Linked DNA regions of Homo sapiens: region 1 is linked to region 2. Evidence: fine-mapped expression QTL. A gene starts in region 2. The other region holds a variant in brackets. All regions are shown on one strand. Distances are from middle to middle. Region 1 overlaps ACTR5 (actin related protein 5). Region 2 holds the start of ACTR5 (actin related protein 5).

Evidence for each region. PIP is the estimated chance that this variant, and not a neighbour inherited with it, causes the effect. A credible set is the group of variants that fine-mapping cannot tell apart.
Region 1: its variant is the best candidate, but not a certain one, in a credible set for the expression of ACTR5 in whole blood (TOPMed, PIP 0.86).

Annotation. Positions count from the first base shown.
Region 1 is chr20:38,770,189-38,786,463 of GRCh38, reverse strand. ACTR5 (actin related protein 5) reads right to left here. Exons shown (of 9, transcript NM_024855.4): 9 at 13,944-14,905. The coding sequence ends at 14,648. It overlaps LOC124904902 (a long non-coding RNA gene), which reads right to left and starts at 6,966. Exons shown (of 2, transcript XR_007067584.1): 1 at 6,512-6,966; 2 at 1-124. RefSeq lists enhancers at 3,253-3,862, 3,863-4,474, 4,968-5,468, 5,469-5,969, 6,302-6,966. The variant C/T (reference allele first, on the strand shown) is at 12,679.
Region 2 is chr20:38,735,558-38,751,985 of GRCh38, reverse strand. ACTR5 (actin related protein 5) reads right to left here and starts at 3,526. Exons shown (of 9, transcript NM_024855.4): 1 at 3,133-3,526; 2 at 1,747-1,976. The coding sequence starts at 3,507. RefSeq lists silencers at 3,291-3,480, 3,781-4,050 and an enhancer at 3,429-3,930.

The DNA of each region.
Region 1 (16,275 bases), 35 kb before region 2:
AAGATACCATCTTTCTATCTTTTCATCTATAATTTTAATGGGATACAAACAAACATACCAACAGGATTATTTTGGATCTTGACAAGCTGATTCCAAAGATCATGCAGGGAAATCAAGAAAAGTTCTGAAAAAGAAAGAGAAATGCGGGAGACAAACTCTGCCAGATCTTAAAGTGTATTATAAAGTGACAATAATAAACTGTTCATTGCAAATTCAGAAATAGAAAGATGAATGGAGCAGAAGAGCAAGTCTGGAAGTAGACCACAATATTTAAGGTCATTTAATAAATAATAAAAGTGGCATTTACATTAGTGGAGAAAAGACGGATTACTCACTAAATATTGTTGGTGCAACTGGCTAGTCGCCTGAAAAGAAATTCAGCTGGAGACTTACTGCAAATCTTTGCCAGGATAAATTCCAACTGGATAAATAAATTATGGTACATGCATACAATAAAATACTACAAAGCAATGAAAATGAACCACAGCTACACACAACATGAATGGATCTTAAAAACAATGTTGGCCGGGTGCAGTGGCTCACACCTCTAATCCCAGCACTTTGGGAGGCCGAGGTGGGTGGATCACCTTAGGTCAGGAGTTCGAGACCAGCCTGGCCAACATGGTGAAACCCTATCTGCACACACACACACACAAAAACACAAAAATTAGCTGCGCATGGTGGCATGCCCATGTAATCCCAGCTACTTGGGAGACTGAGACAGGAGAATCACTTGAACCCGAGAGGCAGACGTTGCAGAGATTGCATCACTGCACTCCAGTCTGAGCAACAGAGTGAGACTCCGTCTCAAAAACAAACAAACAAACAAACAAAAAACAATGTTTAGGGGCTAGGTTCAGTGGCTCATGCCTATAATCCCAGAGCTTTGGGAGGCCAAGACAGGAGGGTTGCTTGAGCCCAAGAATTTGAGACCAACCTAGGTAATAAAAGGAGGCCCCTGTCTCTACAAAAAATAAAATAATTAGCTGGGCATGATGGCACATGCCTGCAGCCCTGGCCACTCAGAAGGCTAAGGTAGGAGGATCACTTGAGTCCAGGAGTTTGAGGCTGTAGTGAGCCTCAAACTCATGATTGTACCACTGCACTCCAGCCTGGCTGACAGAGTAAGACTCTGTCTCAAAACAACAACAACAGAATAATGTTTAGGGATGCATAATGAGGTAGCAACATGATAAGGAACATGAAATAGAATACCACTGACATCAGTACAATGGTCTCTTCTAAGGAGGAAGGAGTGGATTTTAATGAGGGAAGATGGATCATACTGGAGGCTTCTAGGGTGGCAGCAGTATTCTATTTCTTGACCACAGAGGGTGGTGGTCATGCAGGTGTTCATTTAGCCACAGTTGTTTGGGTGTACATTTATGTTTTATATCATTATATGTGTGTATGTATTACCAAAAAGGATTTTTTTTTTTTGAGATGGAATCTTGCTCTGTCACCCAGGCCAGAGTACAGTGGCATGATCTTGGCTCACTGCAACCTCCACCTCCCGGGTTCAAGCGATTCTTCTGCCTCAGCCTCCCAAATATCTGGGACTACAGGCCCGCGCCAGCACACCTGGCTAATTTTTGTATTTTTAATAGAGACGAGGTTTCACTATATTGACCAGGCTGGTCTCGAACTCCTCACCTCAAGGGATCTGCCCGCCTCGGCCTCCCAAAGTGCTGGGATTACAGGCGTGAGCCACCGTGCCCAGCCCAAAAAGGATTTTTAAAAAACCACATATGTGAAAAGAAAACGTAGGATTTTTTTTTTGTTATCTCAAAGTGAGTGAGGCCTTTTAAAGTATGACATAAAACCCAAAAGCAATTTAAGTCCACGAAAAGAATCTGAGTGGAAAAACACCCCAACAAAGTTAAAAGACAAATACCATCATAGGAAAATGTTTGCAATTCTCATCCGTTTCTTAAGAGAAAAGAGCCAAGGAGGCCGGGCGCAGTGGCTCACATCTGAAAACCCAGCCCTTTGGGAGGCTGAGGCAGGTGGATCACTTGAGGTCAAGAGATCGAGACCAGCCTGGCCAACATGGTGAAACTCCATCTCTACTAAAAAAAAATTTAAAAATTAGCTGGGCATGGTAGTGGGCACCTGTAATCCCAGCTACTCAGGAGGCTGAGACAGGAGAATCGCTTGAACCTGGGAGGTGAAGGTTGCAGGGAGCCAAGATTGTGCCACTGCACTCCAGCTTAGGTGACAGAGTGAGACTCCATCTCCAAAAAAAAAAAAAGAAGAGCCAAGGTTGGAGAGTAGATTTTCAATGCATTATCCATGAAAAATAATATTAAGATAAGGGAAAAAAGCAGAAGCTTGGTTTGTATTGACATGGAGTGATCTTCAAGACATATTGTTAAGCCATAGTATGCTACCGTTTGAGTAAAATTTATATGTATATGTCATAGATATGCTGATTGCATGTCCATGGCGTTATCGTGTTTGTGACACATATAATTTATACAGACATACATTATAAAGAGACAAGGAAGAAGCATCCCCACCTGTAATCCCAGCTACTCAGGAGGCCGAGGTGAGAGGATCGCTTGAGCCCAGGAGTTTGAGACCAGCCTGTGAAACAATAGTGAGACTCCTGGGTTTTTGTTTGTTTGTTTGTTTTTTAAGCAGCAGCTCACTACGCACTGCTACTGAGTGATATCCAAGAAATATTGCTATATGATAAACAAAACAAGGCTAGACAAGAGTGTCATTACTTTTTATCTTATTTTTTGAGACAGTCTCACTGCAACCCAGGCCAAAGGGCAGTGGCACAATCACTGCTCACTGCAGCCTGGATCTCCCAGGCTCAAGTAATCTTCCCACCTCAGCTTCCGGAGTAGCTGGGTCACCATGCCTCACTAATTTTTTTTGCTTTTGTAGAGACAGGGGCCTTGCTACATTGCCCAGGCTAGTCTCAAACTCCTGGGCTCAAGGGATCCTCCCACCTCAGCCTCCCAAAGTGCTGGGATTATAGGCATGAGTCACTGTGCCTGGCTCAACTTTTTAATTTTTTTAATGGAAAATTTTAAACACACACAAAAACAGAGAAGTATAACCAGCCCCTGTGTACCTATTCCCCCATATTCAGTGACAATCAACACACGGTCACTCACTCTTGTTTTATCTATAAGCCTTTGCCTATTTTGGAGCAAATCCCAAATATGACTCCAGCTGCCAACATTTCAATATGCATCTCTATAAGACAAGCTCACTCACTCTCTCTCCCTCCATAAAACTACAAAAATCACAACCACATCTTTAAAAACTATCAATAATTCTTTCATATTATTAAATATCCACATTTGCCAGATTTGCTCAGAAGTTTCTTTTATCAAACATGGCTTATTAGAATTAGGAACCAAACAAGGTCCACACTTTATATTTTTGTTATGCTTTTAAATTTTCTTTTTTCTTTTCTCTCTCTCTCTCTCTCTTTTTTTAAGGCCAAGTCTTGATCTGTCACCCATGCTGGAGTGCAGTGGCATGATCTCGGCTCACTGCAACCTCTGCCTTCCAGGTTCAAGCGACCCACCCATCTGATCCTCCTGAGTAGCTGGGACTACAGGTGTGCATCATCACGATTGGCTAGTTTTGTTTTTTGTTTTTTTTTTTTTTTTGTATGTTTTGGTAGAGACAGGGTTTCACCACGTTGTCCAGGTTGGTCTCAAACTTCTGCCCTCAAGCGATCCGCCCACCTTCGCCTCCCAAAGTGTTGGGATTACAGGCGTGAACCACCGCACTGGCCTAAATTTTCTTTTAATTTATATCTTCTCCCTCTCTTTTCCCCCTTTGCAATTTGTTTGGTGGGGGGAAAATGCTATTTGTCCTGGAGAGTTTTCTGCATTCTGGATTTTGCTGTTTGCAGCCCTGTGGTGTTATTTATCATGTTTGTGACAGACTGTACTCGTTTGTCCCATTTAGCAACTACCCTTCTCCACTCTGACCTTTGAATTTGCCCTTGGAGACTGCCATGTGTGAATTACATCAGCTGCGCTCTCTTGCCCTCTGGCTTCAGATGGGTTTGGCCAATAGGGAGCCCTGGCAGGTGTGGGAGGGAGGGAGGACAATGCAGTTGGGGCGTGTATTTCCCTGTCTCCCTCCTGGCAAGGCCACCTTGGTTTGGCTGTGCTTCTTGACTGAAGCTGTGTCCCTCTCAACACAACTGTTCTATACAACTCTTTCTCCTTCCAAATTTGGGTAGCCTCTCCTTTCCTATTGTAAAGGCTTCTCTGAGGACCTTCCCAGGACCCTGCACCATCTTTACACCCTGCCTTCACATCTCATTCTCCTAACCTGAGTATCCCATCTGCTTCCTGTTGGGATGCTAATTCATAATATGTTTCTCTGTCCCCAGAATTTCTAGTAAAATGGCAGTTAAATTTAGTGGCTTGATCACATTCAGGTTCAAATTTTTTCCTAAGAATTCTTCATGGATGATGTGCAGTATGTCGTATTGTATCACACCAGGAGGCACATAATATCCATCCATTATAAAGATGTCCATCAACTCTTTTTCTTTCTTTTCTTTTTTTTTTTTTTTTGTTTGAGACCAACTCTGTCTGTCACCCAGGCTGGAGTGCAGTGGTACGATCTCGGCTCACTGCAACTTCCAAGTGATTCTCCTGCCTCAGCCTCCCAAGTAGCTGGGACTACTGGGGTGTGCCACCACGCCTAGCTAATTTTTGTATTTTCATAGACGGGGTTTCACCATGTTGGCAGGCTGTTCACGAACTCCTGACCTCAGGTGATCCACCTGCCTCGGCCTCCTAAAGTGCTGGGATTATAGGCATGAGCCACTGTGCCCAGCCTTCCATCAACTCTTCACCGAGTGGTTTTTAGCTGTCATTGATGAAGAATTTGTCTCTTGCCTTTATTTCATTAGGAGCTAGAAAATGGTGGTATTCGGGAGGCAGAGGCTGCAGTGAGCCAAGATCACACCATTGCACTCCACCCTGGATGACAGAGCCAGACTGCGTCTCAAAAAAAAAAAAAAGAAAGAAAGAGAAAATGGTGGTAGGTATTTCATCATTCTGTTTTCATTTGTTTAGCTAGAAATCCTCTACAAAGAAAAACATTCCCTTATTATCTGTTCGGTTGCCATGAGGTACAGTTTCTACAAGAAAGGTGAGATCTATGCCTGCTTTTGCCCTTTATTTCCTAGTTTCAGAATGATGAACTGGTTCCCTAGCATTCTCCAAAGGTGACCATGATGAATTCATAGATTTTAGTATGTTTCAACCTTTCACTGTTATTTTTTCAGATGCTCAAATTGTCCCATTCCTGGGCCAGCGGGAGCCCCTTCAAGTGGACTCCTGAATTTTGAGGGTTTTATTGTTGTTGTCATTGTTGTTTTGTTGTTGTTTGTTTTTTTTGAGATGGAGTCTCACTCTGTCGCCTAGACTGGAGTGTAGTGGTGTAATCTCGGCTCACCGCAACCTCTGCCTCCCAGGTTCAAGCGATTCTCCTGCCTCAGTCTCCCTAGCAGCTGGGATTACAGGCGCCTGCTACCACGCCTGGCTAATTTTTTGTATTTTTAGTAGAGACAGGGTTTCACTGTGTTGGTCAGACTGGTTTTGAACTCCTGACCTCAGGTGATTTGCCTGTTTGATTGGCTGTTTGTTGTTCTAGGCTAATTAATTAATATTTGTAAAGAGAAAATACATCATGTGTTCATATGGATACGTGCAATTCAAATTTAGGATTATATGATTTTTCAGTTTTTATTTTATATTTTTATATCTTGTTATACTGAAAATCTTGGTTGCTAACAATGTTAACATTATTTGAATATATACACACATATTTATATCTTCAGAATAATCATACCAATGCCATTACTAACAACATAATTACTGAAAACAGTAAGATTTCTTACTGTGCGGTTATTTTTTGTTCTTAGAATATATCCCACTAAAGATATACATTCAACTACTGTGGTTTCTTTTTTTCCAACTACCATGGAAAGTCACTTAAAATAAAGTCACCTAATTAAAGTCACTTAAAATAAGTCCTCTCCGTGTGAGTAAACCACCAACTTGATATATAATGAGGTTCAATTGTTTCACTTTGCTTTGATTTTAAGGATTGTGCTTTTATTTTTATTGAAATTGGTTTGTTTTGTAGTAGTGTATAACATACACACAATTCTCAAGTCAAATATGCAAAGTATGTATTGTTAATTTAAAACGAAGCAAGGCCTCTCAAACTCTTTGTTCGAAGAAAATCATAGTCATAGGAGAAAGATGAACAAAGAAACTTGCAAAGCTCTTCTGGCCAATACAGACATTGTAGACCTTCATTTTTTAAAAAGAGATGTCAATTGCAAGGTTATTACCAGGGCAACATGCAATTAAGCAAGGTTACCAATTTAAAAGCAGATTAAAAAAAAAAAAGTACACAGTTACATTTCTTTGAAGCCCAGGTGGCTTAAAAGATTCCTTTGTTTCATATACCATTTGCAGCAGGTATCAGAACTGGATGAGTCACACATTCTCACCTAAGTGCCTGTCCTGGGAGCAGGGGGCGGAAGGAATGATCTCCTGGGTGCTTTATCAGAACAGGCTTTCACCAGCTTTATGAGGCTCTCAGGAGAGTGTCTGCTTTTCCACTCTTGCAGCGGAAGAAGGAACATCTCCTTTGTCTTTCTGAGATTCCCTTCTCTAGAAGTTGTCAATCGGGAGAATCTGCATTCTCAAGGTCAAGCTCTGGAATTCCATTAGACAGCAGGGAGCCAGAAGAGCAGGCTGAGGAGTCAAATCGAGAAATGGAAAGAAACAAGCCAGGAGAAGTCTTACGATTCTGCTTCTACAGCCTGCAAAGAGCCAAAGCCGAGGTGCTGCACGGCCCTGAGCTACACCTCTGCTCTCACTTTCATCACCCTACCAGGCTCCTCGGGTGGCTTCTTCCCACATGCCCCCCCCCCCCGCCTCCCAAGACGGAGTTTCGCTCTTATAAACGGGCTGGAGTGAAGTAACGTGATCTCAGCTCGCTGCAACCTCCTCCCCCGCAGGTTCAAGCGATTCTCCTGCCTCAGCCTCCAAAGTAGCTGGAATTACAGGCACCCACCACCATGCCCGGCTAATTTTTGTATTTTTTAGTAGAGATGGGATTTCACCATGTTGATCAGGCTGGTCTCGAACTCCTGACCTCAGACGATCCACCCACCTCAGCCTCCCAAAGTGCTAGGATTACAGGTGTGAGCCACTGCGCTCAGCCTGGGCCGCTTCTTTAAGTTTGGCCCTTCTGCAGAGTCAGCTTGGAATTCAGAAAAGAGCCTTCAGAGATTTTGCATTCCTGTCATTTTGGTGCTCCCCAGAAAGCTTTGGAGTGGCATCAAAGGATCTACCCACTCACCCTGTTCCCATAGCCCCTAGCTTGGCACACACCAAGGAGTGCCAGAACTGGCTGGATGTGATCGGTATACCCTGGATTTCCCAGTGTGTCTCAGCAGTTTTGTAAGAGCTTTCTTATTGCACAGGCCCAGATGTGAGAAAAGTTGTCAAGAAAATGAGGGCAAGTCATCCTCTCCTTTGGGGCCTTCTGAAAATATCCTGGTCCATTTTATTCATATCTTAGAGTATACTGTAGCATTTGAGTGTATCTTCTCTGAATGGCTAAAGGAATGCCTGTAGCAAAGGCTGGCAGAATCACCATCAACACGAGGACCTAGTTCACACTCTTGGAGTGCCCCTTTCTATTGATAACCAGGGCACGGTTATTAATAGTCCAAATGTAAAGCCTTGGAGACTTAACACCACTTGTGATGAAACCCAGTCCAGATTATTGCTGAAGCATTGCAAGCTGGGGAGTATCAGTGGGTAAAGCCCTGCCCCCATGACTAAAGCAAAAGGGTTTCCAGAAATTTGTCCTGGCTAGGGCATACGATCAACCTCAATGCCAGGCAATCCACAGGAGGTTCCCCGGGCAGGGGATCGGCTGGACAGCACTACCCTACTCCTGGCCACGTGCTCATCAAAACCTGATGCAGGCCGGGCGCGGTGGCTCACGCCTGTAATCCCAGCACTTTGGGAGGCTGAGGCAGGTGGATCACGAGGTCAGGAGATCAAGACCATCCTGGCTAACATGGTGAAACTCCGTCTCTACTAAAAATACAAAAAACTAGCCAGGCATGGTGGCACACGCCTGTAGTCCAAGCTACTCGGGAGGCTGAGGCAGGAGAATCGCTTGAACCCAGGAGGTAGAGGTTGCAGTGAGCCAAGATCACACCACTGCACTCCAGCCTAGGTGACAGAGCGAGACTCCATCTAAAAAAAAAATAAATAAATAAAAATTTAAAAAACTGATGCAGGCTGGGAAGTGCAGGCAGCCAAATTCATCTCCCAATTCTTGTGGAACCAGAGGGTTGTGTAGACTGAGGAATGGCTGCCTGCAGAACCCCACCCCACTCCATGTCCTCTGGAACTTTTCCAAAAGGCTACTTAAGCTGGGCACTGGCCAGAGGCGAAGCCCCCTCCCTCATCCTGTTAAGCATTCCTCAGAGGAATGTCCAAGCTGAGAGACTAGCGTCAAGGAAATGACCTCCCTCCATCCCTACTCTCCTGTACTGGAAAGGGCCAACTTGCAGGTTAGTGCTGAAGACCATCTTTTTTTTTCTTTTTTTTTTTTTGAGACAGGGTCTTGCTCCTCTGTCACCCAGGCTGGAGTGCAGTGGCGCAATCATGGCTCACTGCAGCCTTGACCTCCCAGGTTCAAGCAATTCTCCCGCTTCAGCCTCCCGAGTAGCTGGGACTACAGGCGTGCACCACCACCATCAGCTAAGAGTTTGTTTTTTTTTTTTTTTTTTTTTTTTTTTTTTTAGATGGAGTCTCGCTCCGTCACCAGGCTGGAGTGCAGTGACACGATCTCGGCTCACTGCAACCTCCACCTCCTGGGTTCAAGAGATTCTCCTGTCTCAGCCTCCTCAGTAGCTGGGACTATAGGCATGTGCCACCACACTCAGCTAATTTTTGTATTTTTAGTAGAGATGGGGTTTCACCATGTTGGCCAGGATGGTCTTGATTTCTTGACCTCATGATCCGCCCGCCTCAGCCTCCCAAAGTGCTGGGATTACAGGCATGAGCCACCACGCCAGGCATTTGTTTGTTTTTTAATAGAGACAGGGTCTTGCTATGTTACCCAGGTTGGTCTTGAACTCCTGAGCTCAAGCAGTCCTCTCATCTTGGCCTCCCAAAGTGCTGGGATCACAGGGGTGAGCCACCACACCCAACCAAGACCATCTTTTTACATTTCTCTAGAAGACTACTACATAAAAAAAATTCATACTGTTATGGGATTCACAACATAATAGTAGATAAAATACATGACAATACCACAAAAGACCAACCGAGGGGAAACAGAGTTATACTGTTATGGTAGCATTCTGACATTGTATGTGAAGTATTGTAGAATTAATTAATGGCAGACTGTAATTTTTTTTTGCCTGCGACCCCCCAGAGTGTAATATTTTAAGGATATATATTGTAATTCCTAGAACCACCACCATACACACACACACACACACACACACACACACACACAAGGGCATACAGTCATAAATAAATAGAAATACTAAATAACTAAAAATGAAATACTAAGAAATTAAACATGGCTAAATGACCTGCTTTGGCCAGTGAAATTTGAGTACTCGTGGTGGATATGTTCTGGGTGGCACATTTGGGAGCCAGGACTTAACGCTTGATGTTCTCTTTCCTTGCTTTGCGTTGAGAAGGAAGGATCATAAGATGGTGTGGAGTAATTAATTATCCACAGCAATGCATCACCCCCTCCCCACACTCCACCATACTGGTATTTACTGAACATGCAGCATAAGAAATATACTTGGTGTTAAGCCACTGAGATTTTGGTGTTTGACACATACATTTGCATTTCCTGGAATAAAACCCATTTGGTCGCGATGTTTTTGTTTGTTTCGTTTTGTTTTGAGACAGCGTCTTGCTCTGTCGCCAGGCTGCAGTGCAGTGGTGCGATCTCAGCTCACTGCAACCTCCGCCTTCCGGGTTCAAGCAATTCTCCTGCCTCAGCCTCCCAAGCAGCTGGGACTACAGGCATGTGCCATCACGCCCAGCTAATTTTTGTATTTTTAGTAGAGACGGGGTTTCACCATGTTGGCCAGGATGGTCTTGATCTCTGGACCTCGTGATTTGCCAGCCTGGGCCTGCCAAAGTGCTGGGATTACAGGCATGAGCCACTGCACCCGGCCATGATGTTATTTTTTAACGTGTTGGTGGATTTCAATTGCAAATAATTTGTTTTCTCCATTGATATTTTTAAGCAAGATTGTTTTGTGTGTGTGTGTACAACCTACTGGATTTTGATAGCAACATTATACTCACTACATAAAAATCATTTAATTTTTTTTTCCTATGCTCTGGTAAAGTTTAAGGAACACTGGAAGTATCTAGTGTTTAAGGCTAATAGCTATTAAACTCAACTGGACCTGGAGTTTTTTGGAGGGAGGGGGGCAGCTCTGTGGCAATTTTCTTGAGTTCATCTATGGAAAAAAAAAAAAGTCTGTTTGAACTTTATATATCTCTGTTAAGGTCAGTTTTGGTGAATTATTTTCCTAGAAAATTCACTTTTTTAAAATTAAAGGCTTGAATGCAGAAAATTGACAATTGCAGCTAGATTTTCTCACGTATTTCCAGAGTGTGTGAAAAATAGATGATTATTTATTTGAGACAGGGTCTCACTTTGTTGGCCGGGCTGGAGTGCAGTGACACATTTATGGCTCACTGCAGCAATCCTCCCACCTCAGCCTCCTGAGCAGCTGGAACCACAGACATGCAACACCACACCCAGCTGATTTTTAAATTTTTTTGTACAGGTGGAGTCTCCCTATGTTGTCCAGGCTGGTCTCAAACTCCCAGACTCAAGTGATCTTCCTGCCTCGGCCTCCCAAAGCGCTAGGATTACAGGTGTGTGTCACTGAGCCCAACCTATTTCTTCTTTTGATGACTAGTACCTTATTTATTACATGCATTTGTGCTTTCTACATTAATTAGGTTTTCTAGTAGTTTAAAAATGTTGCCATCCTTCTTCAAATTTATCATTTTTGTTTTCTAATTATTCAACTTATTTAACTTCCTAGTATTAGTGCTGTTAAAAAGTCTGACACCATCTAATTTCCCTTTCTTGTGTAAGCCTGCATGGAGGCTGAGAAGACTTTTTTTTTTTTTGAGACAGTCTTGCTCTGTTGCCCAGGCTGGAGTGCAGTGGTGCGATCTTGGCTCACTGCAACCCTGGCCTCTTGGGTTCAAGCAATTCTCATGGCTCAGCCTCCCAAGTAGCTGGGATTACAAGTGTGCACCACCAAGCCCAGCTAAGTTTTGTATTTTTAGTAGAGATGGGGCTTTGCCATGTTGGCCAGGCTGGTCTCAAACTCCTGGCCTCAAGTGATCTGCCTGCCTCAGCCTCCCAAAGTGCTGGGATCACAGGCATGAGCCACCACTCCTGGCCCGAGAGGACTTCTTTTATCTTTAAAATCTAATCGTTTCACTAGGATCTGACACCTCTGAGTCAACTTTCCCAAGCACACAGAGTGGCCTTACAGTATTTATATTCAGGGTGGTTTGTTTTGTGGGGGAAGAAAATTTTATTATCAGTTTAAACATTAATTCTATTCCAGTGTTTTTTCTTCAACATAAAACGTAATGTAGTTGATAAAACCTAAATATAAGACCTGAAAAACTCCTAGAAGAAAACTCCGGGAAAAAGCATCACGACACTGAATTTGGCAATGATTTCTTGGATATGACACCAAAAACAGACAATGAAAGCAAAAGCAGGCAAATGAGACCATATCAAACTTAACTTCTGCCCATTAAAGGAAACAAGAGTGAAAAGGTAACCTACAGAATGGGAGAAAATATTTGCAAACCATGTATCTAATAAGAGGTTAATATCCAGAGTATATAAAGAACTCCTATACTCAACAAAAAATGAAATAACCCAATTAAAAAAGGGGCTAATGACATGAATAGAGACTTCTCTAAAGAAGGCATGCAAATGGCCAATAAGCAAACAGAGAGATGCTCCACATCACTAATCATCACGGAAATGCAAATCAAAACCACAATGAAATATCACCTTACCCCAGTTAGAATGGTTATTATCAAAAAGATGAAAGATAGTAAATGAGGAAACTATCAAAAAAAAAAAAACAGCATAATGAGTTGGTGAAGATGTGGAGGAACTGGAACTCTCATGCACTGATGGTGGGAATGAAAATGGTGCAGCTGCTATGGAAAACAGTACGAGTGTTCCACAAAAAATTAAAAATAGAACTACCATATGATCCAGCAGTCCCACTTCTGGGTATATATCCAAAGGGATTGAAATGAGGATCCTGAAGAGATATCTGCACTCCCATGTTAATTGCAGCATTGCCTGCAATAGCCAAGAAATGGAAGCAGCCTAAATGTCCATCGAAGGTAAAGAAAGAAAATGTGGTATATCCATATGATGGAATGTTATTCAGCCTTAAAAGGGAAGGAAATTCTGACACATGCCACAACATGGAGGAAGCCTGAGGACATTATGCTAAGTGAAATAGGCCAGTTACAAAACAACAAATACTGTATGGCTTCTCTTATGTGAGTTATCTAAAGAAAAACTCTTACAAAGTAGAATGGTGGTTGCAAAGAG[C/T]AGGGGATGGACAGAGGCAGGGGGAAGGGAGTTGATGGGTATTGAGTGTGGTTTTACAAGATGAAAAAGTTCTGGAGATCTTTTGACCAACAATGTGCACAGAGTTAACACCCCTGTTCTGGACGCTTAAAAACGGTTAAGATGGGCCCGGCGCAGTGGCTCATGCCTGCAATCCCAGCACTTTGGGAGGCTGAGGCGGGTGGATCATGAGGTCAGGAGATCAAGACCATCCTGGCTAACACAGTGGAAACCCCATCTCTACTAAAAATACAAAAAATTAGCTGGGCTTGGTGGCACAGACCTGTAGTCCCAGCTACTCGGGAGGCTGAGGCAGGAGAATTGCTTGAACCCGGGAGGCGGAGGTTGCAGTGAGCTGAGATTGCACCGCTGCACTCCAGCCTGGGCGACACAGTGAGGCTCTGTCTCGGGAAAAAAAAAAAAATGGTTAAGATGGTAAAGTTTGTCATGTTGTTTTGACCATCACCACCACAAAACTCAATATAGTTAAATTTTCTTCTTCAACTACAGTTTAATTTCCTTTGCCTCTTTTCCTTATCTATTACTTTCTTATTTCATTTCTTTTCAATGGAGTATCTTCCCCCTGTGCATCTTCTATTTAGGTTTGCGATAACCTTTCCTTTTTCCTTTGTTTACGGTCAGCTGTGGTCTTCCACTCTCTCCATCACCACTGCCCCTTCCCTTCCGGTCTGCAGTTTCTAAGCCCTTGAGAGCTGGAGATCCAGGTGATGACCCTTGGTAGACTGTATGAGCAAACAGGTTCTAAGGTGGCCTCATCAGAGGGGTGGGCTAGAGGCTCCATAAGATTTAAAGGTACAAATTCAGTGACAATATTAGCTCAGGGGCCTTCTGGGATCAATAATTGGTTGTCTTTGAGTTAAAATTCTCACCGAGCAATCTCTGTGAAGGTGAGGGGTTATCTGTCCACTTAAGACACAGCTGGGAAGGTACAGGGAATGGGAGGTTATGGCAAAACTGAACAGGCTACAGGATAAACCTCCTCCAGTCTTATCTTTCTTCCAAAAAGTCTGAAAAAGTTAAGAAGCCAACAAACTCAGAAGGACAGAAATAAAACATTTGTAGGCCTTGTATGGTGGAAAAGTTTACAGCAGAGAAAGTATGAACAAAGTTGGGCCACTGGCTCTGGCACCAAGCAAGTCCCTGGCTTGCAGAGTGACCTCACATGCTGGTAACTTTCTGGGCTTTTCTCCTTATCTGTAAGGGGAAAAAATAGGAGGAGGGAAATATTTCCGGTTCCTGAGGCAACTGCTTTTATTGAATAAACATTACCTTTTATGAAAAATGTATCTTTTTAGAGACAATGTCTTCCTATGTTGCCCAGGCTGGAGTGCAGTGGTTATTCACAGGTGCGATCACAGCACACGATAGCCTCGAACTCCTAAGCTCCAGCGATCCTCCTGCCTTAGCCTCCCACAAAGCTGGGCCTTAACAGGCACGTGCCACTGTGCCCGGCAATAAACATTACCTTTTTATATGCATGAAAGACCTCCCCTCACTGGGCATTCATGCAATTTCTGAATACATCCAGAAGAATAAAGTATCTACACGGACAAGATAAATTTTAAAGAATTTTTTTTAAAACAAGAAAGACTAAAATGTGGTAAGAAATCAGTCTTGTGCATTTTGTACATTTGTGTCCTCCACTCTGTCTTCATTTACTGCTCCAGGAAGCTGATGCCACAGCTGGCCACAGTTGAACAAAGACATCAGAAGGCCAGTTAGTCTCTACCACAGAAGCCCCCAAGTGAACCGAATTCTGAAGGGCAGGTCTCAGTGTCCCTTAACTTTGTTCTCCCCAGGAGAAATCCATTTTGCTGCCAAATGTGACCAGCAGACTTGGGCAGGTACATCTAGCACAATCACAGTCCTGTCACACTGCCAACGTGGCCCAAGGCATGGCGTGCAGGGCAGTCTCTCTGGAGGGCCTCTGCTATGCCTGCTCACCAGCACCACCTCCACCAGCAGCGGAGCCCTTGCTGGATGCCTGGGCATCTGAGGAGCGGGAGGCCTGCTTCGGCAGGCGGATGGGGACATAGATGTTGGAAGCACAGTGCTCCTTGAGGTACTCTCCTCCCTTTTCTTCATACTCTTTCCTGGTGATCCAAACTTCATTATCATCTAGGTGGTTCAAGGCCCAGTCACGAGCACCGTACCAGGCATCCAGCACAGGGTTCGAGGCAAGTTGAACCTGAAACACAAAGATTCACCAGGACACCTCCACCAGGGCTCCAGGAGTGAATGTTGACCTGGCTCAGCTACAGCCCCCGATATTTTATCCCCAGAAATATACACATAGGTGGGCCCAGTGCACTCCAAGACAGTTCGGGGCTAGCTCCACACCCTGTAAACAAAGGTGAGCTGGAATGCCCAGACTCTCCAGAACAGACGGCTGTCAGACATTTTACTAACATAAGACCTGACACTCGGGGTCAGAGAGGGGCCAGTGGCTCAGCCTCCTGCTGCCTGATGCTGTCAACCACAAGCTGTCAGGGAGAGGTGAAGTGGAGGCTGGCCCGTGACCTGGGGAAAAGGCCTTCCTGGCCCCGCTCCCCACTCTGAGTAGAGGGAAACAGGGGCCGCTGCAAGGCAGCTCTAGCCAGGGTAGCAAAAGAGCCTCAGGAGAAATGGCAGCAGAGAGGGGTGACCTGGGCGTTCTCTGTGAGGCTGCCAGCACTTAGTTTCCCCTGCTTCTCACTGGAGTTGGGCTGGGGTTCAGCAGCTCTGAGAAGGCCCTCGGCTAGGCTGATCTGATCATTATGGTAACACTGCAGCTTCCATCGGGCCTCCTGTGTTCTGGAGTTACCCGCCTCACTTCCTACCTCCCTCTCACCTCCCCACTCCACCAATCCCATGAGTTCCAGGTTAGAATGGTGATTTCAGAACTTTCGGGACTGAAGGGCAGAGGCCATAACAGTGGAATCAACATGCACAAATGGAGGTGGGAAAGTGCAGGCTCAGGAGTCCAGCTGCTGGGCTTGCCACGTGGGCAAGGGGCCTGTGAATGAGGACCTTGTCACTAGGATAACCAGAGGCCCCACCCCCTGGCTTCAGGGGATTTAAGTGCATGAGTGTAAGGCACATGGTAGATGCTGCCTGGTACAGAGTATTCAATAAAGCATAGCTGTCATCATTACTAATAAAAAATGCAGCAAGACATATGGTTAATAGACTATACAGCCATAAAAAGGATGCTCTGGAAATGTACCTATTGATATAAAAAAATTGTCATAATAATTTGAAAGTGAAAAAAATACAGGTTACAAAATAAGCTATCACCAATCTCTTTTTGGTTAAAACCATACATGAGATGAAAACGACTGGAAAGTATACAAAGAACATTGCTCGCAGAGGCTGAAACTACAGTTTTCTTGGTTTTCATTTTGGTTTAAATTGTCTGATATTTTTGTAATATTTAAAAATGTTTTACTGTTTAAGAAAAAACAGGAACTTAAAGTTGTAAATTTGCACATCTTGGGGTTCTCTTCCTTCTAATGATCACGGAGGGCCTTAGGTGGTTGGTATGTTTGAGCCACTGCTGAATACATAATCTAAAATTGG
Region 2 (16,428 bases):
TGAAGTTCCCCTGGTATAACCTCTTATCTAGGCAGGCATTCCTAGCTCACCCATACAGTCACACGGCCACCTAACAAGTATGCACTCCAGTCAGATCTTAATGAGTCTCGTCATATATTTCTCAAACTGTAGTCCTGGGACCAGGTATCCCAGAATTAGCTGGGGGAAATTTTAAACATGCCAATTCCCAGGACACAGCTGCTCTGGGGTGGGGCCTGGGGATCTGCATTTTAATGAGCTCCCTAGGTGACTGAAGGCCAGAGTTTAAGAAGCCCTCCCTTAACACTCCACATCTACTGAAGCAAACACGTTAAGTAACCACACGCATCCTGACTTACTGTAAAAGAACCAGAATAATTTTATTTTCCTAATGTGAGAAAGTAAGTGGCAGAGCACTAGGAACTTACTGTAGGGAACTAAAATGTCACTGCTGTATCATACCTCACCAGCAGATGCCAGCATAGAACACGATATGATTCACTCTGATAATTTCCCAGCCTTCAGGTAATTTTCTCTCAATATAAAATATGTTACTTTTTATTTTTGCATATTCTGTTTACATAGAGAACTTCATACATCAGGAGCATTTGGTAACACCTAAGAATTACTTTTTTCTTCAAAAATTTTCATAGAAACTTCATGAGAAATTCAATGGTATTTGCCTTATATGTTCAGTCTGCTTTACAGTTTACAAAGTGCCATTACCTACCTTATCTCATTTCATTCTCAGGGTAACCCTGGGAAATCAGTTTTTCCCAATTTTACGTATCAGGAAATGAAGTGAGGAAGTTAAGTAGCAGAGCTGCAAACCCAGGCATTCAGCTGTAAAGCGTGGGTCTCTTTGTGCCAATGTGAGAAACCTCAGGAGAACACAGTGGTGGCCTAGGCTCTTATCAGACAGTTAAAGCTCAACGATAAAGTGGCAACAGATTTTTAAATATGACATAAACTACCCTTGCCTTTTATTCAACTTGAAAATATTTAGTAAGGGTCCATTACGTGCCAGGCACTGTACCTGAAAGGTCTAAACAATAGTGATTAAATAACTTGAAATTGGCTGGGCGCGGTGGCTCACCCCTGTAATCCCAGCATGTTGGGAGGCCAAGGAGGGTGGATCACTTGAGGTCAGGAGTTTGAGACTAGCCTGACCAACATGGTGAAACCCTGTCTCACTAAAAATATAAAAAAAATTAGCCAGGAATGGTGGCAGGTGCCTGTGGTCCCAGCTACTCGGGAGGCTGAGGCAGGAGAATCAATTGAACCCGGGAGGCGGACGTTGCCCTGAGCCAAGATCCCACTGCACTCCAGCCTGGGCAACAGAGCAAGACTCTGTCAAAAAACAAACAAACAAACAAACAAAAACAAAAACAAAAAAAAAACAAAAAAAACTCCAGAACACAAAGATGGTCTCGATTAAATTTATTCAAAACATTTCTACTGAATGCCTACTACCTGCAGATACTATGTTAGCTATCTCCCCATTATGTCAGAATTATAATATTGTAGAATTATGGATGTGGAACTAAGAGATCATCCACCCCAACTCCCTCCAGAAGGTCACAAAGGACACAACTATGGGCAAAGGGACTTACCCAGTCACACAGTGAGGTAGTTCAAAGCTAAGCCCAACGGCTCAGTTCACAGGCTAGTACTTGCTCTTTCTACTCTGCCTTTAAAGCACGCAGTAAATAAATGTTTCCTGAATGCTTCTCAAAATCGCACTCAAATGCCACAAGTGCAACTCACCTCCCTTCTAAGATGGGTAAAACATGCGTACACTGGTATCCAGATGAAATGATTAGCCCACTGCACATCGAGTTCTTTGGCTTATTGTGGTAGAAGCTGAAGAGGCTGTCTATTCCATAGGCAACCTTGGGAATCCCGTAGCACTCAAAAAGAAGCTCAGACATCATTTGCCGTGAATACAGTGGGTTGCACACAGCTTCTGTCAAAACTATGGGATGATCAACACAGCCCTACTTTGAAAGAAAAGGGCAAATAAATGAGTGGTAACAGAATACTCTTTTTGAAGCATAAAAGAACCCAAAATCCTTATTGCAGGACTGAATTTGCTTTTGGCTTCTTAATCAAAAACCTGATCAGAGGCGATTATAAAACTCCCATCTCATCTTTACTTGAAAATACGAAAGTAGAGTCAATTTAAGTTATTAAGTCAAGGTCCCATCCAAACTGTCAGCAAATCGTGTTGGCTCTATCTTCAAAGTATTTCCAGAATCCAACTGCTTCTAATGACATTCCCTGCTATCTGCCTCATCTAAGCCACCATCATCCCTTACCTGGGTTATTCCAACAGCCTCCTAACTCGTCCCTGTTTCCACCCTATGATCCAAGACAATTCATTCTCCATACAGCAGTAATAGTGATCCTTTTAAAACACAAGTCAGGTCCTTCTTCAGCTCAACACCCTGCCATGGCTCCCCATTTCACTCAGTAAAAGCCTATAAGGTGTGTGATCTGCCTCTCCACTACCTCTCTGACATCCTCTTTCAGGTACTACTCTCCCCCTCACACAGGCAGCCTTGCAGTTAGGATTAGGGCACACTCCTGCCTCGGGGCCTTTTTACTGGCTGCTCCCTCTGCCTGGACCGTTTTTCCTTCAGATATTCACATGGCTTGCTACCTGAATCACCTCCTTCAAGTCCTTGCTCAAACATCACCTTCACGAGTCCTACCCTGACCATCTTACTGAAAAAATGTAACTCCCTCCTCTCCTATCACGGCGTAGAATCTACTATTTCTATGTTTACTGTCTGCCTTTTCATACTAGAATATCTTTCCATAGTATTAACAGCTCCATAAGCACAGGAAGTTTTGTGTTCACACATGTACTCCAAATGCCTAAAAAGTGCCTGACACAGAGTAAGTGCTCAATACGTATTTGTTAATAAATGGGCTTCTTAACAAACAAGCATATATGCCCAAAGGTATGCTCCAAGATACAAGGAGCAGCATTTTATTCGCTGCTACACCCACAGCGCCTAGCATCTGGTCGACTAAAAGACAATCGGAGCTACTGAAGTGACTGTTACCTCTCCGAGAGCAGAGTGAGCGGAGACGAGACCGCACCCCTCCCCTCAAACCCAGCCCAGCCCAGCCTACTCCGCCCTTCACCTGTGAGGAGACACCCAGGTGCTGGAAGCTGTAGTCCAGCAGCAACTCCTGAAGCTCCAGGTTGACCGGCACGTTGCGGTCGAAGGGCGAGCGCAGCATCCAGCGCAGTGGCTCCAGGCTGCCCAGAGCGTTCCCCACCTGCGGGCCCGACGCGCCCCGTGCCCCGCCACGACCGCGGGCGCACACCGCGCGGAACTGCAGGCGCGGCTCGGGACCTGGGTCCTGCCCGGGACACGCCCAGCCAGCGCGGACTTGGAACGACCCGTTGTCCAGCACCAGCGGTACCGGCAGTGGCCCGTGTGCCACCGGGCCGGCCTCCAGCACTGGGTCCGGTGCGGCACGGGCGTCGCGGAACGGGAACACGTTCGCCGCCATCTTGGAGCGCGCGTCCAGCCCCGCCCCTCGGCGCAGTGTCCGCCCAGACGCCGCGAAACCGCGCCCCCGACGTCACGCCGCGCGATTCAGGCCTTTAAGTACCTCGATGCCCCCTCCCTTCTCGAAGCCCGGCCAGCCTTTCCACTTGACTCGCCTCTGGCTGTCAAGGCTGCTTTCAGGATCGCTGAGACGTACCCATTCTGGCTGCGAAATTCTACGTTTCTTAACCTCTCCCCCAATAGCCTATGAGTGCCCACGCCCCTTCACTCTAGCCGGGACGCCCGGTTTGGAAGCCCCGCCCCAAAGCCTATCGCCGCCAGGCCCCGCCCCTTTCTGGCTGCCAGCTTCAGCGCCGCGCTCGGTGGAGCCCCGCCTCTCTGCCTGGCCACGCCCCATTGCCGGGCGCGCACCGTCGGCCGGGCGCGCACCGTCGGCCGGGCGCGCACCTTCGACCGCCGGCGGCCCCGCCTCCGCGTGGCTGTCTCGCCCTCAGTCTTGCGTCCTGGCTAGAAGGGTCCTTTATCTTTTGACGCTTCCTTTACGTTAAGAAATCTCAAACTCTGCCGACTGTTCAATTTCTTGACTAGGGAGCTGACTACTCAGTTCTGTTCACTTTACTAACTCGCACAGACTGTGTCTTCTCACTAAGACACAGTGTTTTCTCAAACCCTGAGAAAAGACTGCTGATTGTTCCCCAAGCATTCCCTCTCTTTTAGTGGCATCACCTCCCACTCCCACGTGGCCATCCGTCTGGCTGCGATCTAGATGCGCTCATGTGACTAAATTCTGGCCAGGAGCGGGTGGGAGAGGAGGCCATGTGTGTGACCCACTCAGTTTTAGCCCTAAAAGCACTCGTCGCGCTCTATCCTGTCGCATTTCCATCTTTTCACTAGCTAAGGGGGTAAGAATTAGAGCAGTTGTTTTACTACAACCTTTTTTTGTGCAGTGGGGCGATCTCGGCTCACTGCAGCCTCGACTTCCTGGACTCAAGTGATTCTCCCGCCTCAGCCTCCTAAGTAGCTGAGATTACAGGCGTGCACCACCACGCCCAGCTAATTTTTATATTTTTAGTAGAGAAGGGATTTCACTATGTTGCCCATGCTGGCCATAACCATTTTGAAAGAAGAAAAAGAATAGAGCAGCTGCCTTGAATCTACTCTACCAGGTCTATAACACTTCAGTTTGAGAGATAAAATCAAATTAGTTACAAAAGATATTGTAAGCGAGAAATGAAACTCCTAACTTATCTCAAGAACCTCTATTAACAGTGTTTGTTGTTGTTGTTGTTTGTTTTTTTTAAGACGGAGTCTGGCTCTGTCACCCAGGCTGGAGTGCAGTGGTGTGATCTTGGCTCACTGCAACCTCCACATCCCCGGTTCAAGCAATTCACCTGCCTCAGCCTCCCGAGTAGCTGGGATTACAGGCATGCTCCACAACACCCAGCTAATTTTTTTTATTTTTAATACAGACGGGATTTCGCCACGTTGGCCAGGCTGGTCTCGAACTCCTTGGCTCAAGTGATCCGCCTGCCTCGGCCTCCCAAAGTGCTGGGATTACAGGCTTGAGACGACGGGCCCAGCCTGTTAACACACCTAAACCAGATTGGGAGCCAGCCCAGTGGCAAAAATCAGGTTGTGTTGTCTTTCAACACACGTCCATTGTTCAGATATCTGAAGTAACCATCGTTAAGTTAATTAAGAGGGGGACCAGCAGAACACAGAAACCAGTAAATGTAAGTTAGTGAATGTTAATTTAAGAATTGTGTCTATGTATATTAATATGAAAAAGCACTGGCTGGGCGCAGTGGCTCACACCTGTAATCCCAGCACTTTGGGAGGCCGAGGCTGGTGGATCGCCTGAGGTCGGGAGTTCGAGACCAGCCTGGCCAACATGGTGAAACCCCGTCTCTAGTAAAAATACAAAAATTAGCTGGGCATGGTGGCAGGTGTCTGTAATCCCAGCTACTTGGGAGGCTGAGGCAAGAGAATCGCTTGAACCCTGGAGGCGGAGGTTGCAGTGAGCCGAGATCACGCCAGTGCACTCCAGCCTGAGCAACAAGAGTGAAACTTTGTCTCACAAAAAAGAAAAAAAGAAAAGCACCAAGGTAAATATATATATTATATATATTATTATTTTATATATATATGAGAGGCAACTCCAACGGGGATGGCCAGTGTGGTGGCTCATGCCTGTAATCCCAGCACTTTGGGAGGCTGAGGTGGGAGGACTGCTTTAGCCCAGAAGTTCAAGACCAGCCTCAACCTCACTAGTAGTTGGGACTACAAGTGCACACCACCACATAGAGACAGAGTTTTGCCATGTTGCCCAGGCTGGTCTTTATAAGCGTTTGGCACATGAGGTAGATTGGATTATTATTCCCAGTTCTTCATTCCTTTACTTTTTTTTTCTTCACTCCTTTATAGTAGGATGATACATCCATACCATTTGCCTTGTAACTTTGTAGAGCCTCTCCTTGAGGACACTGATATTAGGCTTGGTCATGTGACTTGCTTTAGCCAATGGACTGTTAACTGAATATGATTGGTTTAGATTGCCTTCTTGCACTCCTGCTTTTAGTCATGAGAGGAACATACCTGAGTCCAAAGAGGATAAGAGATACATGGAGCAGATCTGAACCTAAACTGCAGTCCGAAGCCAAGTCCAGCCAACCTGCAACCTAAAGTTGAGCTGCCCCATGGACCTCTGAACAAGAAAAATGTTTATTCTTATAAACCACTGAAATTCTGGAGTTGCTATGCAGTATTATTGCAGGAGAAAACCGACTAATACACTAGACCAATGCTGTCCAACAGAACTTTGTACATTGGAAATGTGCAAATTGATGGAGATGATCTAGTATCTGTTGTGTCTAACACAGTGGCCAGTAACCACATGTGGCCGCAGAGCACTTGAAATGTGAATAGTGTAACTGAAGAACTGAATTTTTAAAATGTTCTTAATTTTAATTTTTCTTTCTTTCTTTCTTTTTTTTTTTTTTTTGATGGAGTTTCGCTCTTGTCACCCAGGCTGGAGTGAAGTGGCACAATCTCGGCTCACTGTAACCTCTGCCTCCCAGGTTCAAGCGATTCTCCTGCCTCAGCCTCCCGAGTAGCTGGGATTACAGGCATGCACCACCACACCCCGGTAATTTTTGTATTTTCATTAGAGACAGGGTTGCACCATGTTGGCCAGGCTGGTTGTGAATTCCTCACCTCAAGTGATCTGCCCACCTCGGCCTCCTAAAATGCTGGGATTACAGGTGTGAGCCATTGCACCCAGCCTTAATTTTAGTTTAAATTTAAATAGTCATGTAGCTAGTGGCTACTCTATTGCACACTGTAGCACTAGACAAAATCTAGGGCTGTAAAGATTTACCCATGGAAATGACTAGAAAAAAATACATTAGGCTGGGTGCAGCGGTTCACGCCTGTAATCCCAGCACTTTAGGAGGCCGTGGGGCAGATCACTTGAGGTCAGGAGTTCGAGACCAGCCTGGCCAACATGGAGAAAGCCTGTCTTTACTAAAAATACAAAAAATTAGCTGGGCATGGTGGTGCACACCTTTAGTCGCAGCTACTCAGGAGGCTGAGGCACAAGAATCACTTGAACCTGGAAGGTGGAGGTTGCAGTGAGCTGAGATTGTGCCACTGCACTCCAGCCTGGGCAACAGAGCAAGACTCTGTCTCAAAAAAAATGCTTTAGAAGCCTACTGTATTATTTTCCTAGCTGCTGTAACATAGTACCACAAAGTAGGATGACTTGAAACAAGAGAAATTTATTTTCTTACACTTCTGGAGGCAGAAGGCTAAAATTAAGGTGTCGGCATGGCCATGCTCTTCTTGAAGGCTCCAGGGTAGTATTTGTTCCACAGCTTTCTCTTAGCTTCCTGGTGCTGTCAGCTATGATGGTTGGTTTTATGTCAGCCTTTCTGGCTGCCCAGATATTTGGTCAAACATTTTTCTGGGTGTTTTCTATGGAGTGCTTTAGGATGAGATGAACATTTCAATCAGTAGACTGAGTAAAGCAGATTTCCCTTCCTAATGTGAGTGGGCCTCATCCAATCAGTTCAATAGAACAAAGAGGCTGACTCTCCCTGCCTGAATGGCTTTGGACTGGGACATCAGCTTTTTTCCTTTTTTTTTTTTTTTTTTTTTTTGAGACAGAGCTTCACTCTTGTTGCCCAGGCTGAAGTGCAATGACACGATCTCGGCTCACCGAAACCTCTACCTCCCAGGTTCAAGCAATTCTCCTGCCTCACCCTCCTGAGTAGCTGGGATTACAGGCATGTGCCACCATGCCCTGCTAATTTTGCATTTTTAGTAGAGACAGGGTTTCTCCATGTTGGTCAGACTAGTCTTGAACTCCCGACCTCAGGTGATCCACCCGCCTTGGCCTCCCAAAGTGCTGGAATTACAGGCATGAGCCGCCGCCCAGCCTTTCCTGCCTTTAGACTTGAACTGAAACATAGACTCTTCCTTGGTCTCAAGACTGCTGACCTTCAGACTGGAACTACACTACTAAGGCCAGTTCTCAGGCCTTCGGACTTGGACTCTGATATGGTTTGGCTCTGTGTCACCACGGAGATCTCGTGTTGAATTATAATTCCCAGCGTTGGAGGTGGGGCCTGCTGGGAGGTGATTGGATCATAGGGTGGTTCTAATGGTTTAGCACCATGGACCTGGCTGGTCTTGTGGTAGAGTTCTCACAAGATCTGGTTGTTTCTCCCTTCGCTTGCTCTCTCCTGCTCCACCATGTGAAGATAGTACTTGCTTCCCCTTTGCCTTCCACCATGATTGTTAAGTTTCCTGAGGCCTCCCCAGAAGTGAAGCTTGTATAACCCGCAGAACCATGAGCCAATTAAATCTCTTTTCTTTGGAAGTTACACAGTCTCAGGAACTTCTTTATAGCAGGGCGAGAACGGACTAATACAGACTCAGACTAGAACTAAACCATTGGCTCTCCTGGGCCTCCAGCTTTCCAACTCACCCTGAAGATCTTAGAACTTGCTTACCTCTGTAACTGAGTAACCCAATTCCATGTAGTGTGTGTAAGTATGTATACATATATAATATTAGTTCTCTTTCTCTGGGGAATCCTGACGAACACACCTGCAATCCTCAGTGACGAACACACCTGCAATCCTCAGCATTGCTTGGCCTCTCCAGTCTCTGCTGCCGTCATCATGTGGTGCTCCCCTTGAGTGTATCTGTCTCTTTTCCTCTTCTTTTTATTTTTTAATTTTTTTTTTTTTTTGAGATAGAGTCTCGCTCTGTTGCCCAGGCTGGAGTGCAGTGGTGCCATCTTGGCTCACTGCAACCTCTGCCTCCCAAGTAGCTGGGATTACAATCATGCGCCACCACGCCCAGCTAATTTTTTGCATTTTTAGTAGAGACAGGGTTTCACCATATTGGCCAGGCGGGTCTCGAACTCCTGACCTTGTGATCCACCTGCCTCGACCTCCTACAGTTTTGGGATTACAGGTGTGAGCCACCACGCCCAGCCCACTTTTCCTCTTCTTCTAAGAGCACCAGTCTTATTGGATTAGGGCCCCACCCTACTTCAGTATGAGCTTCACTGATTATATCTGTACTATGTACCTGCAACAACTATATTTCTAAATGAGGGCACATTCACGGATGTAGTGAATCAGAACCCACATTAAATACACCTTCTATTTGGTTTAAGTTATGGCCATGTTGGCTCCTGTCCTAAGTAACACACACACACACACAGGTGATCATATGATGTATCTAGTCTTGTTCCTTAGAGAGCCTTCATGACAGGACTCAGACGGTAGAACTATCAGAAAACTGTTCCAAGGAAACCATGTGCCATGCATTCTGCCTGCAGCTTGGTGGGGAGGATGTGATGAGAACAGGTATCAAATTAGGCTGTTGAACCTTAATTCATCATGGCTGACCAAGGCCTTGTGCTGGACTTGGTTCAGGGCTCGTTGGGCCAACTGCCTGGGAAACAGAAAGGATATCCACGTAACTGAGGAGACAGGTGGCAGACTAGGACTGGGGGCAGGTGATTTAGCACAGGGTCTCCAACTTCATCCCAGATCCTGCTAACCCACTGGTTGGAATAATCAGATATAGGGCATGCTGTGGCCTTTTAGTAGCCTGTACCTTTGCACATATGTATTGTTGATGCAGACCGAGATGCTCTGCCCTACATCGTTTGCCTCTAGAATCCTCATTAAGGGCCAGCTCAGATGTCACTTTGGTCTTCCTTCCCTGGGGAATAGAGCAGAGTGTCCCATAAGGTGCTTACTATGGGGCAGGTTCCCTTGATCACAGGTGACGAGAGCCTTGGTTGGTGAGAATGTGTTAGGTAAGTTAGTGCTATGTCCTCCTCTAAGCCCTCAGGTTAAGTAGATGGAGCAGGGGGCAGGGGACTGACAGTTCACACCTCAATAAGGGGATTTTTTTAAAAGGAAAACCCTACAAGAATAGGAGAATGGGAGAGAGAGATTTCAAGAACTGGAAAGTATACATGCAAGTGGTATCTAGTTTAGAAAACCTGATTCCCCAGCTGCTCTGGGAAAAGCTGAACACTAATCTGTTTCACACTGTACAATGCTGAAAAGTCTCAGGAATTAGTGGCACAAGGTTCTTCTAGAAAAGAGAGTAAAAGTGGAACGGCCAAAATAAGGAGAACTTGTTAAAACTATTTTATGAAGAAGCCTGCCGAAGTCTATAGGTGCTCTTCTTTCTAACTGCCTCCAGAATTCCCCAAAAAGACTGGAGGTTTGACTCTTTGCAAAGAGTAAAACAAATAGTCTCTAAACAAGGATATCAACTGAGAACAAAATGATTAAGTCAATATACATAATGAATGCTAAGATCCCAGTCTCTTCCCCTACTTTGTTCCTGATACTCTATAGGTTCCCAAGTTTTTACCCTTCAGCGAAAGAATGGAAGAATCTTCCCTGAGATTCTTATCCAACCTGAGAGGAAAACTCTAAGTGAATTGGTCTTGGATGTTCTCCCTCAAACAGCCCATTGAGATCATTTTACGATGAAACTCACAGTCAGTAGGACTCTTCCATGGACTCTGCACCTCCAATCAGCCTCTACTAGCCCAATCAGCCTGTACTACCCCAGTCTTTAAAATGAGGTACGCTTCTAACATGAAAGCCAGAGGTTAAAGCATACAAAGAGGGAAGAAAATCAACCAGGAGGCAATAGAGACTACGTGAAAAAGAGAAACCTTAAAATACTCATTATTACTACAATATCTTCAAAGAGATAGAAGAAGATATTGTATCCATGAAACAAGAAAAGTTTGCTATAGAACAGGGAGGTTAAGAGAACCAAAAGAAGGTTTCGGGGGCTTGGGGTGAGGGACAAGATAGCAGAAATGAAAAACTTCGTAGATGGAAGATAAAGTTGAGAAAATCTCCAATAAAGTATGTGTGTGTAGAGAAAGAGGGAAAGAGGAAAGAAAAATAAGAAATTTAGAGGAGCAGTTCTAATCTACAAATAATAGAAGTTCCAAAAGACAGAACAGAAAACATACAGAGGGCCATCCCAATTCAAGGCAACTTCCTAGAATTGAAGCACTTGAGTTGCTGTGTTGGGAAGAAGCCACAATGAAAGGAAACAGATCTACATGAACACACATCATGAAATTTCAGTTCCCTGGAAACAATGAGAACATCCAGTCGTTTCCAAAGAGAAAGAAAATGTTTGCATACAAAAGAACAAAGATCAATTTCAAACTTCTCCTTGGCAACATCGAAAACTAGAAAACAAATGGAAAGTGCTTTCAAGTCTAAAGAAAAATGGTTTCCAAACTAGAATTCAGCCAAACCCTCAATCAAGAACTGGGGTAGAATATAGACATTTAAAGTTATTCAAGGCCTCAAAAATGTACCTTCCATAACCTCCCTTATATTCCAGAAGCTATTGTGGAATCTGCTTCAAAACAAGGGAGTAAACCAAGAAAGAGAAATCACGTGAGACAGGAGACAGGAGCTGCAACATACAAGTGAAGTAAGAGAACCCTGAGGTGATTGAAAAGCCGGATCCCAAGAGGACAGCTGTGCTACAGGCATATGGGGTGCTGGCCAGGTTGGAGTGGGTCTGCTTTGGGAGAGACTTCTTCAGGAAAGGGAAACTGATACCATATTTTGTGTGAATGAAACAATTGAGGGGTGTTTAGACAATTGGAGGAGAGTTTGGGGTTCAGTTATTAAAAAGTATTTGAGGCTGGGAGCAGTGGCTCACACCTGGAGGCCAAGGATCACTTGAGCCCAGGAGTTTGACGCCAGCCAGGGCAACATGGCAAGACCCTGTCTCTACAAGAAATCAAAACAGTTGGCCAGGTGCAGTGGTTCACGCCTGTAATCCCAGCACTTTGGGAGGCCAAGGCAGGAGGATTGCTTGAGCCCAGGAGCTTGAGACTAGGCTGGGCAACATAGCAAGACCTCATCTATGGAAAAAAAAATCATCTAAGCATGGTGGTGTGTGCCTGTGGTCCCACCTACTCAAGAGGCTGAGCTGGGAGGGTCACTTGAGCCTGGGACGTCAAGACTGTAGTGAGCTGTGATCTCACCACTGCACTCCAGCCTGGGCAACAGCTTGTCTCAAAAAAAAAAAAAAAAAAAATCAAAAAATTAGCTGGGCATGGTGGTGCATGCATGCCTATGGTCCCAGCTACACAGGAAGCTGGGGTGGGAGGATCGCTTGAGCCCAGGAGGTTGAGGCTATAGTGAGCTATGATCACACCACACCACTCCAACCCTGGGAGACAAAGTGAGATTCTGTCTCCAAAAAAAAAAAAAAAAGGAATTTGAAACAAACAAAAAGGCAACTTCTTATACAATAAAAAGTTGTACAGGAAAGGAATTGTAATCATAGTTTATCACATGCCCCAGCTCTAATTAGTACACATATCATACAATGTAAATCTTGAGTACTAAGCTAACTAAAATGATCATGTAACTATACTGGGAAACTGAAGGGGCGGGGATGTAGACTGGAGAAGAATTAGGAAATGGACTAAAACCTCACCTTCCTGAGTGGGAGTCAATAATTAAGGTCCAAAATGAAAAATAAAGAAATTGCAATAAAAGCATTTTTTGTGGGGGCAGGGGGTGGGGGAGGACAGAGTCTTGTTCTGTCGCCAAGGTTGGAGTACAGTGGTGAGATCTCAGCTCACGGCAACCTCCACCTCCCAGGTTGAAGCAATTCTTATGCTTCAGCCTCTTGAGTAGCTGGGACTACAGGTGCCTGTCGCCATGCCAAGCTAATTTTTTGTACTGTTAGTAGAAACAGGGTTTCGCCATGTTGGCCAGGCTGGTCCTGAACTCCTGACCTCAAGTGATCTGCTTGCCTTGGCCTCCCAAAGTGCTGAGATCACAGGTGTGAGCCACCACACCTGGCCCAATATAAGCATGTTATTTGGAGATGTGGAGATAAATATTAAAAGGATCAAGTGCCAGGTGCGGTGGCTCACATCTGTAATCCCAGCGCTTTGGGAGGCCAAGGCGGGTGGATCACCTGAGGCCAGGAGTTTGAGAGCAGCCTGACCAACATGGAGAATCCCATCTCTACTAAAAATACAAAATTAGCCGGGCGTGGTGGCACATGCCTGTAATCCCAGCTACTCAGGAGGCCGAGGCAGGAGAATCGCTTGAACCCAGGAGGTGGAGGTTGTGATGAGTCGAGATCTCGCCATTGGACTCCAGCCTGGGCAACAAGAGTGAAACTCAGTCTCAAAAAAAAATAAAACGGGATCAAGTGTAAGAATTGAAAGTAGTTGCCTCTGGGGAAGGAGAAATTGGAGGAAGGGGCTACAGAGTGCTATTTTAGTTAACTTGTAGAATTCATTGATTCTTTAAATTATGTGTATATGTAATACAAAAAATAAAACTTAAAATATTGAAGTATGGCCAGGTGCAGTGGCTGTAATCCCAGCACTTTGGGAATCCAAGATTGGAGGATCACCTGAGGTCAGGAGTTCAAGATCAGCCTGGCCAACATGGTGAAACCCCGTCTCTTTTAAAGTACAAAAATTAGCTGGGTGTTTTGGCACATGCCTGTAATCCCAGCTACTTGGGAGGCTGAGGCAGGAGAATAGCTTGAATCTGGGAGGTGGAGGCTGCAGTGAGCTGAGATTGTAACACTGCACTCCAGCCTGGGTGACAGGGCAAGACTACATCTCAAAAATAAAAAAAATAAATAAAAATAAAAAATAAAAAATTGAAGTATGGGCAAAGGCATATTAAACAAAAGCAAACAAAAGGAAAAAAAGGCAAGTTAATTTGAATATCAGAGAAAGTATGTTAAACTCTCCTTGGTTGGGCATGGTGGCTCATGCCTGTAATCCCATACTTTGGGAGGTTGAGGTGCAAGGATAGCCTGAGGCCAGGAGTTTAAGACCAGCCTGGGCAACATAGTGAGACCCCATTTCCACAAAAATAAAAATAAAAAAAGTAGCCAGACATGGCAGTGCACACCTGCAGTCCTAGCCACTCAGGAGACTGAGGCAGGAGGATCACTTGAGTCCAGGAATTTGAGGCTGCAATGAGCTATGATCACACTACTGCATTCCACCGGGGGCAACAGAGTGAGACACTATCTCAAAAAAATTGTTTTTAATAAAAAATAAGTAAACTCTCCTACTATGTTTGTAAATTAGTCCATTTCTCTACATTCTATATTTGGAACCTGTGTTATTAAAAACACCAAGTTTAGAATAATCATCCTGGCATATTTTGTCATTTTTTGTTTGTTTGTTTGTTTGTTTGTTCTGAGATGGAGTTTCACTCTTGTTGCCCAGGCTGGAGTGCAATGGCGCGATCTCGGCTCACTGCAACCTCCACCTCCCGGGTTCAAGCAATTCTTTGGCCTCAGCCTCCTGAGTAGCTGGGATTACAGGCATGCACCACCACGCCCTGCTAATTTTGTATTTTCAGTAGAGATGGGTTTTCTCTATGTTGGTCAGGCTGGTCTGAAACTCCCGAGCTTAGGTGATCCGCCCACCTCAGCCTCCCAAAGTGCTAGGATTACAGGCTTGAGCCACTGTGCCCCGCTGGCAGCTTTCTTTTGATTAGTATTAGCCTGGCAAATGTTTCCATCTTTTTATTTTAATCTTTCTCCATCTTTTGTTTTAGATATATACCTTGCAAAGAGTGTATAGATGGACTTTCAAATTTCAATCTGAGAATCATTGTCTTCTGACTGGCTAGTTTAGTCCACTTATCTTTATTACTTATTCATTTATTTTTACTACCCTGTATTGACTGGAAGGGCCTTTATTTTGCTCCTTTTCTTTCTTTTCCTTTTCTTTCATTTCCTTCTTTTTCCCTGACTTCTACATTGATCATGTTTTCTTTCTTTCTTGTCTTTCTTTCTTTCCTTCCTTTCTTTCTTCTTTCTTTCTTTCTTTCTTTCTTTCTTTCTTTCTTTCTTTCTTTTTCTCTCTTTCTCTCTCTCTCTCTCTTTCTTTCTTTCTTTTTTGAAACGGAGTCTCGCTCTGTCACCCACACTGGAGTGCAGTGGCATGATCTCGGCTTACTGCAGCCTCTGCCTCCCAGGTTCAAGCGATTCTTCTGCCTCAGCCTCCCAAGTAGCTGGAACAACCAGCAAGCGCCACCACACCTGGCTTTTTTTTTTCTCTGAGATGGAGTCTCACTCTGTCACCCAGGCTAGAGTGCAGTGGCGCGATGCAAGCTCCACCTCCCACTTTCACATCATTCTCCTGCCTCAGCCTCATGAGTAGCTGGGACTACAGGCGCCCGCCACCACACCCGGCTAATTTTTTGTATTTTTAGTACAGACGGGGTTTCACCATGTTAGCCAGGATGGTCTCGATCTCATGACCTCGTGATCCGTCTGCCTCGGCCTCCCAAAGTGCTAGGGTTACAGGCGTGAGCCACCATGCCCCACACCTGGCTAATTTTTGTATTTTTAGTAGAGACGGGGTTTCACCATGTTGGCCAAGCTGGTCTCGAACTCCTGACCTCATGATCCGCCCACCTTGGCCTCCCAAAGTGCTGGGATTATAGGCATGAGCCACCGCACCCAGATCCGTGCAAGTTTTCTTTATTTGCTCTTTTCCTTCTACTAGGTTGGAAGTTACACGTTCTCCATCCATTTGTTGTCGTTCTTGTCATTGATGGTTGTGATAGTGGTGGTGTATGAGTAACACTCTTGCTCATCATTAAGCCTAAAGTTAATGGTATTTCTCCCTATATTTGAATTAGAAAGCCATAGAAGATAAGACTTCAATTATTCCCTCCCATCTTAGAGGTTATTTACCAAAATTTTAGTTCCACCTTAGATCCCAAGAATTGGTTATTGTTAATATTGTTTTCTATGGGCAGTACTTGCTCAGGCACAGATTTGCTTCCTACATAGTCCTTCCTTGTGGGTTAAGTTTCTTTCTTCCTGAAGTCTATTCTTTGATAGTTATTTCAATGAGAGGCTGTTAGTGGCAAACTCTCACCTCCCAGACGTCTCAGATGGATTAAGCTCCCATTATTGACAGGTGCTTCCCTACCCATAAAGTTTCCTGAATTGACATTCTTCCTTTCCTTCCCCGTCTCACTTCTCCACTGTGCTACTGGTACTTCTTGGTATCAGCTCTCATGTGAACTACTTCAGTCAAATAGGTCTGTTGCTGGGGGAATCTAACCGACGGCAGCCTCTTTTCAGTCCTCATCTTTGTTCGTCAGCTTCCTCTCTCTTCAGCTTCTCTTGGTCGGCCTTACTTACTTGTATTCTTCAACTCTCCCGCTTTGAACACCTCTTCAGAGTAAAGGCTCCATGACAATTGTTTCCAAGTCTGATCTCACTCTTCTTTGAGAAGCTTCTAGGTGTGTTTCTTCTACTCCAAAATTTAGAAACAAAGAGTACACACATGTATTAGTCCATTTGTGTTACTATAAAAGAATACCTGAGGCTGGGT